Homo sapiens: one gene and its partners. The protein of the gene in region 1 interacts with the protein of each later gene in a pairwise test. Each region holds a gene or a part of one and is shown in the gene's direction. Other genes may lie near its edges. The genes, in order: SGF29, ITPRID2 and KIF2C.

Region 1 (3,651 bases):
CCACAGCAGCACAAAGGGCCACCGTCATGTCCTGCTGCTCTTTTCCTTACAGGAAGAGCGTTCGCGGAGCGAACACAACTTAGTGAACATCCAGAAGACCCATGAGCGGATGCAGACAGAGAACAAGAGTGAGTAGCTGGGCTCAGGAGAGAAAGGGGATGAGATGGGGCTAGGGTGAGTATGGCCAAGACTGTGACCGAGGTGGTCATTGTATTCAAAATAGATTTGCATGTATCTGCATATTCCAAAATGCAGCAGGAGGGACAGCTTTCCGTTAATCTGGGTGACCTGAAGAACTAAAATCCCTCTACTCTGAGGATTCGAAAGGCAGTGAAATGAGGCTGTATCTAGGGAAGCTTGCCCTTAGAGCACACAAGCGCCCCAGTTAGCTGGTGTTTTCTAGAAAGGAGCTTCCTTCCCAGGCGGCCCCTGCATCTGCCCTGAGGCCCTCAGGTGGTGAGATCCTGGGGCTGGGGCTTTCTTACTCTGGGTAACTCTGAGAATTGTGTTTTCCTGGGTCCTGACAAATATTTTCTGTGAGTGTCATGATGGAGAAAAGGTAAGACAGTACTCTCGCAGATGTAGGGATGGCATTTGTACCATATGGAAATGCGGACTCATGGAGCCTGGGGGCATCCGCCTCAGGAGCACTCCTGAGCCAGCAGAGCTCTGACTGCAGCTACGGCCTCTCTGTGCCTCCACGAGTGTGATTCCGGTGCATGGAAGCAGTGCCATGCTACTGTGCCTGCCCTGGCCCTGCCTCCTTATCCCTGTGTTTCCTCTGCAGTTTCTCCCTATTACCGGACAAAGCTGCGTGGCCTCTACACAACCGCCAAGGCCGATGCAGAGGCTGAGTGCAAGTGAGTACCGTGCACCCACTTCATCGCCGCTCCCTCCTTTCCTGGGGGCTGGGCTGCAGGTCCATTTGGACCAAGTCCCCAGCCTGCCTTCCTCCCATGGATAAGCTGATTGCTACTCCCAGCCTCTCGCTTGGGTCCCGCATTCCCTGGCCCACTGCCAGGCCCACTCTTCCAGTTACCTCTGCTGCTAATGCCTTTACAGAAGGTGGCAAGGCGTGAGTCAACACTGCCGTTTACTGGCTCTATGACCTTGGCAGAGTCATTAAAATAGGGATATCAGGGGCTGGGTAGCTCAGATCTGTAATCACAACATTACAGAGGTGATTGGGAGGCCGAGGTTAGAGGATCACTTGAACGCAGGTGTTTGAGACCAGCCTGGGCAACAAAGTGAGACTTTGTCTCTACAAAAAGTTTTTAATTAGCTGAGCGTGGTGGCATGTGTCTGTAAGCTTGGCTGGGAAGTCATACTCAGATGACCTGAAGGTTTTATGGTTCTGAGATGGAGAAGTTTCACTTCCAGAAAACTCCTGCTTTTAAAATAATCTTAAGGCCGGGCAGGCACAGTGGCTCATGCCTGCAATCGCAAGGTGGGTGGATCACCTGAGGTTGGGGGTTTGAGACCAGCCTGGCTAGCATAGCGAAACCCTATATCTACTAAAAATACAAAAATTAGCCAGGTGTGGTGGCGCACGCTACTTGGGAGGCTGAGGCAGGAGGCGGAGGTTGCAGTGAGCTAAGATCGTGCCACTGCACTCCAGCCTGGGCAACAGAGCAAGGCTCTGCCTCAAAAAAAAAAAAAAAACTAAAATAAAAAAATGATCTGGAAACACTGTTTCCTTGAATCTCTGCAGGAGATTCAGGAACTTGAACATTACATTCCTCTACTTTGAGAACACACTGGTTCTGAAGTCTGACTGTGCCCAGAGGCTCTGTTTATTTGGGGTGGAGCTCCAACATTGGTATTAACTATCTGACATTTCCTCACTAGTAGGATTCATGCTTTACACTTTTGGCACAGAAGAGGTGTCTCTGGTGGGTCATATTAGACGGCACAGGATGCTGTCTGTGCCATTGGTTAAAGTGGTATTTTCCACGTTTCTCTTGTATCAGATTACTGCTATTTTCCATTGTGTGATTGATCGATTAAGACAGGGTCTCAGTCTGTCATCCAGGCTGGAGTGGAGTGGCGTAATCATGGCTCACTTCAGCCTCAAACTCCTGGCCTCAAGTGATCCTCCTGCCTCAGCCTCCTGAGTAGCTGGGACAATAGGCACCTGCCACCACTCCACCTAATTTTTGTATTTTTTGTAGAGAGGGGTTTTGCCATGTTGCCCAGGCTGGTCTTGAACTCCTCAGCTCAAGCGATCCACCCACCTTGGCCTCCCAAAGTGCTGGGATTACAGGTGTGAGCCTCTGCACCTGGCCTCCATTGCATAATTAATAAGTGTCTTGGGAGATACTTTTGAGACTGTAACTATCCTGTTCATATCAAACACACTAGTTTTAGCATCCATTTATGATTTGTGCGTGAAACAATTGAGATTTTTTAAACTTCCCCCAGGAGATTCTGATGCCCACCAAGGTTTGAAAGCCACTTCAGTAACATGTCACAGAAGACAGTTTAGGACAGGCTGTATAAAACTGTATCCTCCACACAGGCCTGGCAACAGTGATGAGACTCTCAGAGTTCCCTTTGGCCCCGTGGCTCTTTCTCCTTCTCTGCTTTCTGGGGTCCCGGTGCTCACAGCCTGAGGTGGCACTGGCTGGGCCATCCCTGCATTGTACGCAGCAGGCAAGCTGTTCCTTGTCCCTGCGTTGGTTTGGCTGCCCTTGGCCTACCTCCATCTTCTGGCCCTGGCCTGGTGAGGTCCATGAGTCACATGCCCTGGGGCACCCCCGGACACCTCCCGAGATGCTGCATCACACCCAGTTCCTGTGCATCTCCTTCCTGCCGCACAAAGGTCTTTAGAACTCCGGGTCATTTCAGAAAGGCTTGCCAGAGGAATGGACTGGGGTTTGCCATGGTATCAGAGGAAAATAAAATGACCCAAAGTGGAGTTTGTGCTGCTGACTACTGTGGAAATACGTATTTTTTTTGAAATGGAGTTTCGCTCTGTCACCCAGGCTGGAGTGCAGTGACACAATCTCGGCTCACTGCAAGCTCTGCCCCCAAGGTTCAAGCGATTCTCTTGCCTCAGCCTCCCAAGTAGCTGGGATTATAGACGCCCGCCACCACGCCGGGCTAATTTTTGTATTTTTAGTAGAGAAGGAGTTTCTCTATGTTGGCCAGGCTGGTGTCGATCTCCTGACCTCAAGTGATCCTCCTGCCTCAGCCTCCTAAAGTGCTGAGATTACAGGCGTGAGCCACCACACCCATCCCTGCTGTGGAAATACTCTTTGGGAAGATTCCCTGAGCTTTAGGATGAAGGAGCCTCACTCCAGCCAAGTTCTGTGTTTGCTTCTGCTGGGTTCTTTGGGTTCCTGCCACCCTGGAATCCCCATAAACTAACTTCACAGAGGCTTCCTGGGGCTTCAAGGCCATGCAGGGGTCTGTCTTTGGGTTCAGCCTTTCAGAAAGGATGAGGTCCTTCCACCCAGTTCTGCTCTGGGCCAGCACCTCTCCCCAGAGTCTCCCCTCCTTTTGTGTGACCCTCGGGCAGACCTGAGGCCCCCTCTCCTCATTTCAGGAGGTTCCTGCAGCCTTTCTGCAGGGTTTGCCGAAGGCAGTTTGCCTGTGTCCTTTCCTCTCTGGGATCCTGTGTTCTCTTAGTTTTTGGCATGCTGCTTTCTA
Region 2 (3,651 bases), on another chromosome or scaffold:
GCCTGGCCAACATGGTGAAACCCCATCTCTACTAAAAATACAAAAATTAGCCAGGTGTGGTGGTAATCCCAGCTATGCAGGAGGCTGAGGCAGGAGAATTACTTGAACGTGGGAGGCAGAGGTTGCAGTGAGCCGAGATTGCGCCCCTACACTCCACTCTGGATGACACAGCAAGACTCTGTCACAAAAATAAATAAATAAGAAATATATTTTATGAAACAGTATTCATTTTGTGTCCATTGAGATTATATCATGCTTGATGGTAGGGATTCTTTTATACTTTATTCCAATAATGCCTGTACTCCCAAAAAAGATTGGCACACATTCCTGGTTTGTCAAGAATACATTTTGGCGACTGGGCGCGGTGGCTCACGCCTGTAATCCCAGCACTTTGGGAGGCCAAGGCGGGTGGATCACAAGGTCAGGAGATCGAGACCATCTTGGCTAACATGGTGAAACCCCGTCTCTACTAAAAATACAAAAAATTAGCCGGGCGTGGTGGCGGGTGCCTGTAGTCCCAGCTACTCAGGAGGCTGAAGCAGGAGAATGGCGTGAACCCAGGAGGCGGAGCTTGCAGTGAGCCGATATTGTACCGCTGCACTCCAACCTGGGTGACAGAGTGAGAATCCATCTCAAAAAAAAAAAAAAAAAAGAGAATACATTTTGGCTAGTTTGTTTTTTGAGTGATGAAGAATAATGAGATATAATAAAATGGCCATATTGCATTGGTAGCAGGACTGGAAAGACTATACTCATTGTTGTGAATATAGATTTGCAGTGGTCCTAATTCAGTATGTTGTATTTCTGTTTATATACTGTGACTAAGAGATTCTGGTTTTTAAAATATTTGTATCCAACACATACTTGTTTGAAAAGTAAATCTGAAGTGCTGTGTGCTTCAGAATCTTCTGATGTTGTTTAAAGTTTAGAAATATTGATAAAAGGTAAAGTGAAAAGCTTATAGTATTTAAATATATTCCAGTACAGATGGTTGGTAGCTAAGGAGTGTTTTGTTTCTTTAAATAACTATGTATAAATCTATGTATTGTGTACCAATTTTGCATGATAGACTAATACAGGACCATTTTTGGAAAGATTATAGTTAAGATGTGTTTGAGATGTACTTAGGAACATTGTAGGAAATAAATCAATTTGGCTGACAGGAAACTGGAAATGTAGAATTTTTAAAAGCTTGTTGAGAGTATCTTGAGTGCTTATTTGGGAACACATTATCACTTTATTTCAGGAAATACACATTTATAGCTTTCACAAAGGGCTATTTAAAAGTGATGCTGTATCATTAGAGAGAAAAGGTGGAGATAGGCATATGTAAGTGTTTGGACACCTGTAGAAGAAAATCCTGATGGAATTGTCATTTCCTCAGGTCTGTTTGCCTTTTCCAACAATAAAATGAGATGTATATCCTCATATCCTATATGCATATTGGAAACAAAAGCTTAGATGGCTGGCAGTGATACCATGCAACTAAAGAAAAAGTTATTTCTTTAGAGTTTATGGTTGTTTTGAGGATGTTTTTTATATTATAAAATAAATTGTACTAAATGATAATTTCTTCTTCCCATTTTAAATGTGTTAGGTTGAACAATATGTCTTTAGATACCTTGCTGTCAGTTGGCATAAACAGGCAGTATACCTGTATACTATTTTGCCTCTAAAAGATTTTCTCAGCAATGAGAGCACTTGTGTCTCTGCTGATTACCTTACAAAGTTAGACAATACTAAAAACATTTAAGAAGTCCTTCCAGATTATTTTTTTGACATGAGGTAAAGTATTTACTAGAAGTTTTTTAACTTATGAAATAACATTTTCTAATGTCCTCACCTTATGAATTGTGATATTTGTAATCTAGTTAGCTGAACAATTCTAGACCAGTCCTTGGGAGTCTGATCTGGGTTGGATGATAGATGGACTCGATTCCCCACTCCCTCTCTGTATTGCAGGGAGATTCACATGAAGGTGAAATTAAGAAATTGAATGCTATTTGTATTTTTTCCAAAAACAGGAAAAAATGAATTCCATTCATATTGGTAAATTTTTGTTTTATTGTTTTTCCAATCTAGATTAAAGAGTCTATTGTTGGGGAAATCAGACGGGAAATTGTAAGTGGACTTTTGGCAGCAGTATCTTCAAGTAAAGCGTCTAATTCTAAGCAAGATTATCATTAAACAGAAATTATAGGTAAATTTTTCTGAGTTTCTTTGTTGAGCTAAATGTAAATAGTAACTGGCATTTTATTCTTTGTTTTGTTAGTATACAGGTTTGGTTCTCTAGTTAAATTTTGAGTTTTAGAATGTATGTAATATGTTATTTTACAATGTGAAAATTTCACACAAGCCTATTTGAAGTGTAAGTCAAATCCCATAATACAAATCTCCAAGGAATTACTTATATTGGGTCATTCTACTGAAATTTCATTATAGTAATAAATCCTGGAATTGGACCTTCAAACCTGAATCTTATTTTGATTATAATGGTATTTCAGATGTATAGTTTTAAAGAACAAGATTTTGTGAATTAATCACAACTTCCTTTTTTTTTTTTTTGAGACAGAGTCTCGCTCTGTCGCCCAGGCTGGAGTGCAGTGGCGGGATCTCGGCTCACTGCAAGCTCCGCCTCCCGGGTTCACGCCATTCTCCTGCCTCAGCCTCCCAAGTAGCTGGGACTACAGGCGCCAGCCACTACGCCCGGCTAATTTTTTGTATTTTTTAGTAGAGACGGGGTTTCACCGTTTTAGCCGGGATGGTCTCGATCTCCTGACCTCGTGATCCGCCCGCCTCGGCCTCCCAAAGTGCTGGGATTACAGGCGTGAGCCACCGCGCCCGGCCGAATTAATCACAACTTCTAAGTATCTTTCCTAATTATTTTTATCTTTTAAAGAAACATATCCCATAGATTCATTTCTAATAATAATTTATTTCAAAAAACTCTTTTATATGTCTGTCTTAGTAAAACGAATTACTTTCATTTTATCTCGTAGCTCTAATTACATTAAAAAATTTTTTTGTAGAGATGGGGTCTTGCTATGTTGCCCACGCTAGTCTTAAACTCCTAGCCTCAAGCGATCCTCCTGCTTTAGCTCTAACTTCATTTTATATAATATATATTAATAATAATTCTTGGTGAATGCAAAAAGAAAGAATAAGTTGAGTAGAATAGAACTAAAAATATTCATTGAATAAGACATGAGAAACAAATGTAATTTGAAAAGTATAATATACAATTTCAGATATAGGAAATTGGAAAGTATTTTAATAAATTATGTCACAAAGCAATTAATAGGAATTATTTTTTTTAAAGCCAGGGATATAAGAATTAACTCTCAGGAAGATGTATAGAGATTACAGGATAATCATGTTTCTGTGTATATATATTTGCATAAAATTCTCATCTTCCTTTAAAGAAGCTTTTAATAACAGTATTTGAAAGAGGTTTAAAACTGACTTCTCTTTTCTTTTTTAAGGTTGGCATGGATCCTATTAGCTGTGTAATACTGGAATTATCAATGATATGCACTGGTGGAGGTGTTATTTGTGCTTTAGAAGATACTTGCTGTTGAGCTGGGCTACTGTATACAGTGTACAATGTGTATTTCTTCAACCATATATTTTAAAAAGACGTACATAGAAACT
Region 3 (3,651 bases), on another chromosome or scaffold:
GCCTTGGCCTCCCAAAGTGCTGGGATTAAAGGTGTGAGCCACTGCACCTGGCCCCAGATCTGCTCTTTCTAATACAGCACCCAGTACCCTCATAGGGATATTTACTTATTTTATTTTTATTTATTTATTTGTTTTTTGAGACAGAGTCTCAGTCAGTTGCCCAGGCTGGAGTGCAGTGGCGAGATCTCAGCTCACTGCAACCCCCGCCTCCCAGGTTCAAGCAATTCTCCTGCCCCAGCCTCTCAAGTAGCTGGGATTACGGGCACGTGCCACCACACCTGGCTAATTTTTTGTATTTTTATTAGAGACAGTTTCACCATGTTGGTCAGGCTGGTCTCAAACTCCTGAGTTCAGGTGATCCACACACTTCGGCCTCCCAAAGTGCTGGGATTACAGGCGTGAGCCACTGTGCCCAGCCAGTAGTGTCTCTTCTGCTGGAAGCTGGATGCTGAGCTTAGGCTTTTATGCTGTGTCTCCAGGGTCAGAGGAAAGGTCAGATGGCTTAGAGTATGGGCCATCAGCTTGCTTCTGGTTAGTCGGCCCAGTGATCCCCCAACACCCATCCCACTGCCAGTTTGCTAGGAGTATTTCAGATTTGTAAAGTGGGGTTGGGGTCAGGTGGGACCACTGAGGCAGGAGAGGAGTGCTATTCTTAGAAGGAGGAATCGACCCTAGAACTCTGCAGTGGAAGGGTGGCAGGACATGTTCCAGGGAGCACAGTTTGGGAACAGATACAAATACTCTACCCCTCTTCTAGGTTCACAGCAAGGCCACTGGTACAGACAATCTTTGAAGGTGGAAAAGCAACTTGTTTTGCATATGGCCAGACAGGAAGTGGCAAGACACATGTGAGTATTGAGGCCTGGCGGGGAAAGAGCCTTTCCCTTGTGCACCCCTGGCTCCCTATAAAGGGAGACAATGAGTTTGTTGAGAAAGGCCCCTTGTTACAGATGCCCCATCACCAGATAGCCTTGCCATGTCAGATGCAGGGAGGGGCTTTAGGTCCAGCCTTCTGGCTTTGTTGTGGCCCACTGTAGTGAAGGAGCCAGTAGTGCTCTGCTCTAGGCCAACAGCCCTTTTCCATGGTCTTCTACCCCTTCCCTTTGCAGACTATGGGCGGAGACCTCTCTGGGAAAGCCCAGAATGCATCCAAAGGGATCTATGCCATGGCCTGTAAGTACTGTGTACTGCTGCTTCAGGGTTGGGCACAGAAAGGCAGGTTGTTTGCTTAGCAAAGTTCTCTCCCTCAGCCCGGGACGTCTTCCTCCTGAAGAATCAACCCTGCTACCGGAAGTTGGGCCTGGAAGTCTATGTGACATTCTTCGAGATCTACAATGGGAAGGTAGCTGGCAGGAAGCCCCTTGTTTACACTGTTGGGGCCCAGCACTTTTTAAAACCTTGAAGCTGGCTAGAAGTTGAGGCCAAAAACCTATTAGCTGATTAGCTGTCAAGCCACTGATGGGCCATTCTGCCCTGGCATACACATGTAGGTGGTTTAATCTGATGGTGAGATGGCACCTAAGTTCAAGAAGTATGGCAAGAATACTCCTCAGGGCGCCCTTTCAGGTGCAAGGTTTGCCTGTGTGTGTCCTGACCTCCCTCGGCCGACCTCCTTCATCCCTTCTTCCCCGATTGTGCACGTTCAGTCTCATATTCATTCTTTCCCTGCCCGCACCACCATATATCTCTTCCACCCCTCTCTCTATTCACTGTGTGCTTCTGCAGAGTTGCTTTCCTTAGAGTGGGATCTAGATAATAAAAATAGCTAATATTTATCATTAATAAGATATTAGGGGCCAGGCGTGATGGCTCACACCTGTAATCCCAGCACTTTGGGAGGCCGAGGCGGGCAGGTCACCTGAGGTCAGGAGTTTGAGACCAGCCTGGCTAACATGGTGAAACCCCATCTCTACTAAAAACACAAAAAATTAGCTGGGCATGGTTAGGGGCACCTGTAATCCCAGCTACTCGGGAGTCTGAGGCAGGAGAATCGCTTGAATCCAGGAGGCAGAGGTTGCAGTGAGCCGTGATCGCACCATTGCACTCCAGCCTGGGCGATACGAGCGAAACTCCGTCTCAAAATAATAATAATAATAAGATATTAGGAGCTATGCACTATTCTAAGCACTACCTGTCTCACCTTTACAGATGAGATGCAAGGCTAGAGTGGTTATTAACTTGCCCAGGCTCACACAGCTAGTAAGTTACCAGAGTCACAGCAAACTGAGGCAGTTCGGCTCAGATCCCAAGTATATTGACCTCTGCTAGGCTGACATCCATCAGTTCGTATTCTCTGCCTTTCCTGCTGCTGGCTCTTGTCCGAGCTGGGCAGGCTAGTAGGAGGAAGCAGTCGGGTGGGGTGCCGGGTGCCCAGTGGCCTTAGCCTCATTCCCCCTGCCTGGCACAGCTGTTTGACCTGCTCAACAAGAAGGCCAAGCTGCGCGTGCTGGAGGACGGCAAGCAACAGGTGCAAGTGGTGGGGCTGCAGGAGCATCTGGTTAACTCTGCTGATGATGTCATCAAGATGATCGACATGGGCAGCGCCTGCAGGTGAGAGTCCTGGTGAGGGGAAGGAGCGACCTTCTCATGTCTGGTTTATGAGTAAAGTCTAGCTCTGAGCACATTTCTGTTTACCCAGAGTGCTGCTTTGCCCAGTTTGGTAAGGGCTGCGAAGGCCTCTGCTTTACGGGGTCTCAATAAGACATATGACCCCAGGGCCAGAGGCTTATCAGAACCAAGTCAGGTCAGGCACAGTGGCTCACACCTATAATCTCAGCAGTTTGGGAAAATGAAGCAGGAGGATCACTTCAGGCCAGGAGTTAGAGGTTGCAGTGAGCTGTGATCGCACCACTGCACTCCAGTCTGCATGGGCAGAGCAAGATCCTGTCTCAAAAAAATAAAAATAAAAACAAGTCAAAGTGTTACCCCAAAGGCATGCTTCCTGGCTTCTTTGGGTTCTCCTTGCTCTTCCCTCCCTTTGTGGTGGAAGTCGGGAGCTCTGGGTCTGTTCTGGGCTGGAAGTAATGGGTTCATACCCCCTCTGCACAGAATTAGGGGAGCACTTTTCCACTAGGGCTGTAGACATTGGTACAGTGGGGCGCTACGCAGCTATAGAGGCCCAGGGAGGGGGCTGCCCTCTACAGGGTCCTCAAGTTCTGGCAGGTGGTTCATGACAGCTTCCCCCTTCCCTTTGGGCCCTTTAGCAGAGGGAATTTATCCTTCCCCGTGTCCTTCTAGGGCTCCAGGTCTGACAAAGGCCCTAGTCCAGAATCCAGTACTAATTTGGCTGCCAGGAAAATGTATTAGGTCCAGAGCTGGAGGGAGAATTGCTACCCAGGGAGGGCAAGATGGAAGCCTGGGACAGGAAAACAGGACTTTTTCGCCTCCTAACCTGTGTCCCTCCCTTCCTAGAGAACTTCTGTGGACTTGGGTGCCATGGGGGCTGGTGACCACAGAATCTCATAACCTTTCTTTACCACAGAACCTCTGGGCAGACATTTGCCAACTCCAATTCCTCCCGCTCCCACGCGTGCTTCCAAATTATTCTTCGAGCTAAAGGGAGAATGCATGGCAAGTTCTCTTTGGTAGATCTGGCAGGGAATGAGCGAGGCGCGGACACTTCCAGTGCTGACCGGCAGACCCGCATGGAGG

What was found.
Region 2: the proteins of SGF29 (region 1) and ITPRID2 interact in binary tests that used the Homo sapiens proteins (3 or more experiments, as listed by UniProt).
Region 3: the proteins of SGF29 (region 1) and KIF2C interact in binary tests that used the Homo sapiens proteins (3 or more experiments, as listed by UniProt).

The regions. Positions count from the first base shown.
Region 1 is NC_000016.10:28,584,861-28,588,511, forward strand, and holds part of SGF29 (SAGA-associated factor 29), read left to right. Parts: intron 1-52; coding exon 53-128; intron 129-787; coding exon 788-860; intron 861-3,651. UniProt on the Homo sapiens protein: Chromatin reader component of some histone acetyltransferase (HAT) SAGA-type complexes like the TFTC-HAT, ATAC or STAGA complexes.
Region 2 is NC_000002.12:181,926,079-181,929,729, forward strand, and holds part of ITPRID2 (protein ITPRID2), read left to right. Parts: intron 1-2,082; coding exon 2,083-2,187; 3' UTR 2,188-2,200; intron 2,201-3,482; coding exon of another isoform or gene 3,483-3,578; 3' UTR 3,579-3,651.
Region 3 is NC_000001.11:44,756,799-44,760,449, forward strand, and holds part of KIF2C (kinesin-like protein KIF2C), read left to right. Parts: intron 1-757; coding exon 758-848; intron 849-1,109; coding exon 1,110-1,173; intron 1,174-1,250; coding exon 1,251-1,342; intron 1,343-2,407; coding exon 2,408-2,550; intron 2,551-3,481; coding exon 3,482-3,651. UniProt on the Homo sapiens protein: In complex with KIF18B, constitutes the major microtubule plus-end depolymerizing activity in mitotic cells. Regulates the turnover of microtubules at the kinetochore and functions in chromosome segregation during mitosis.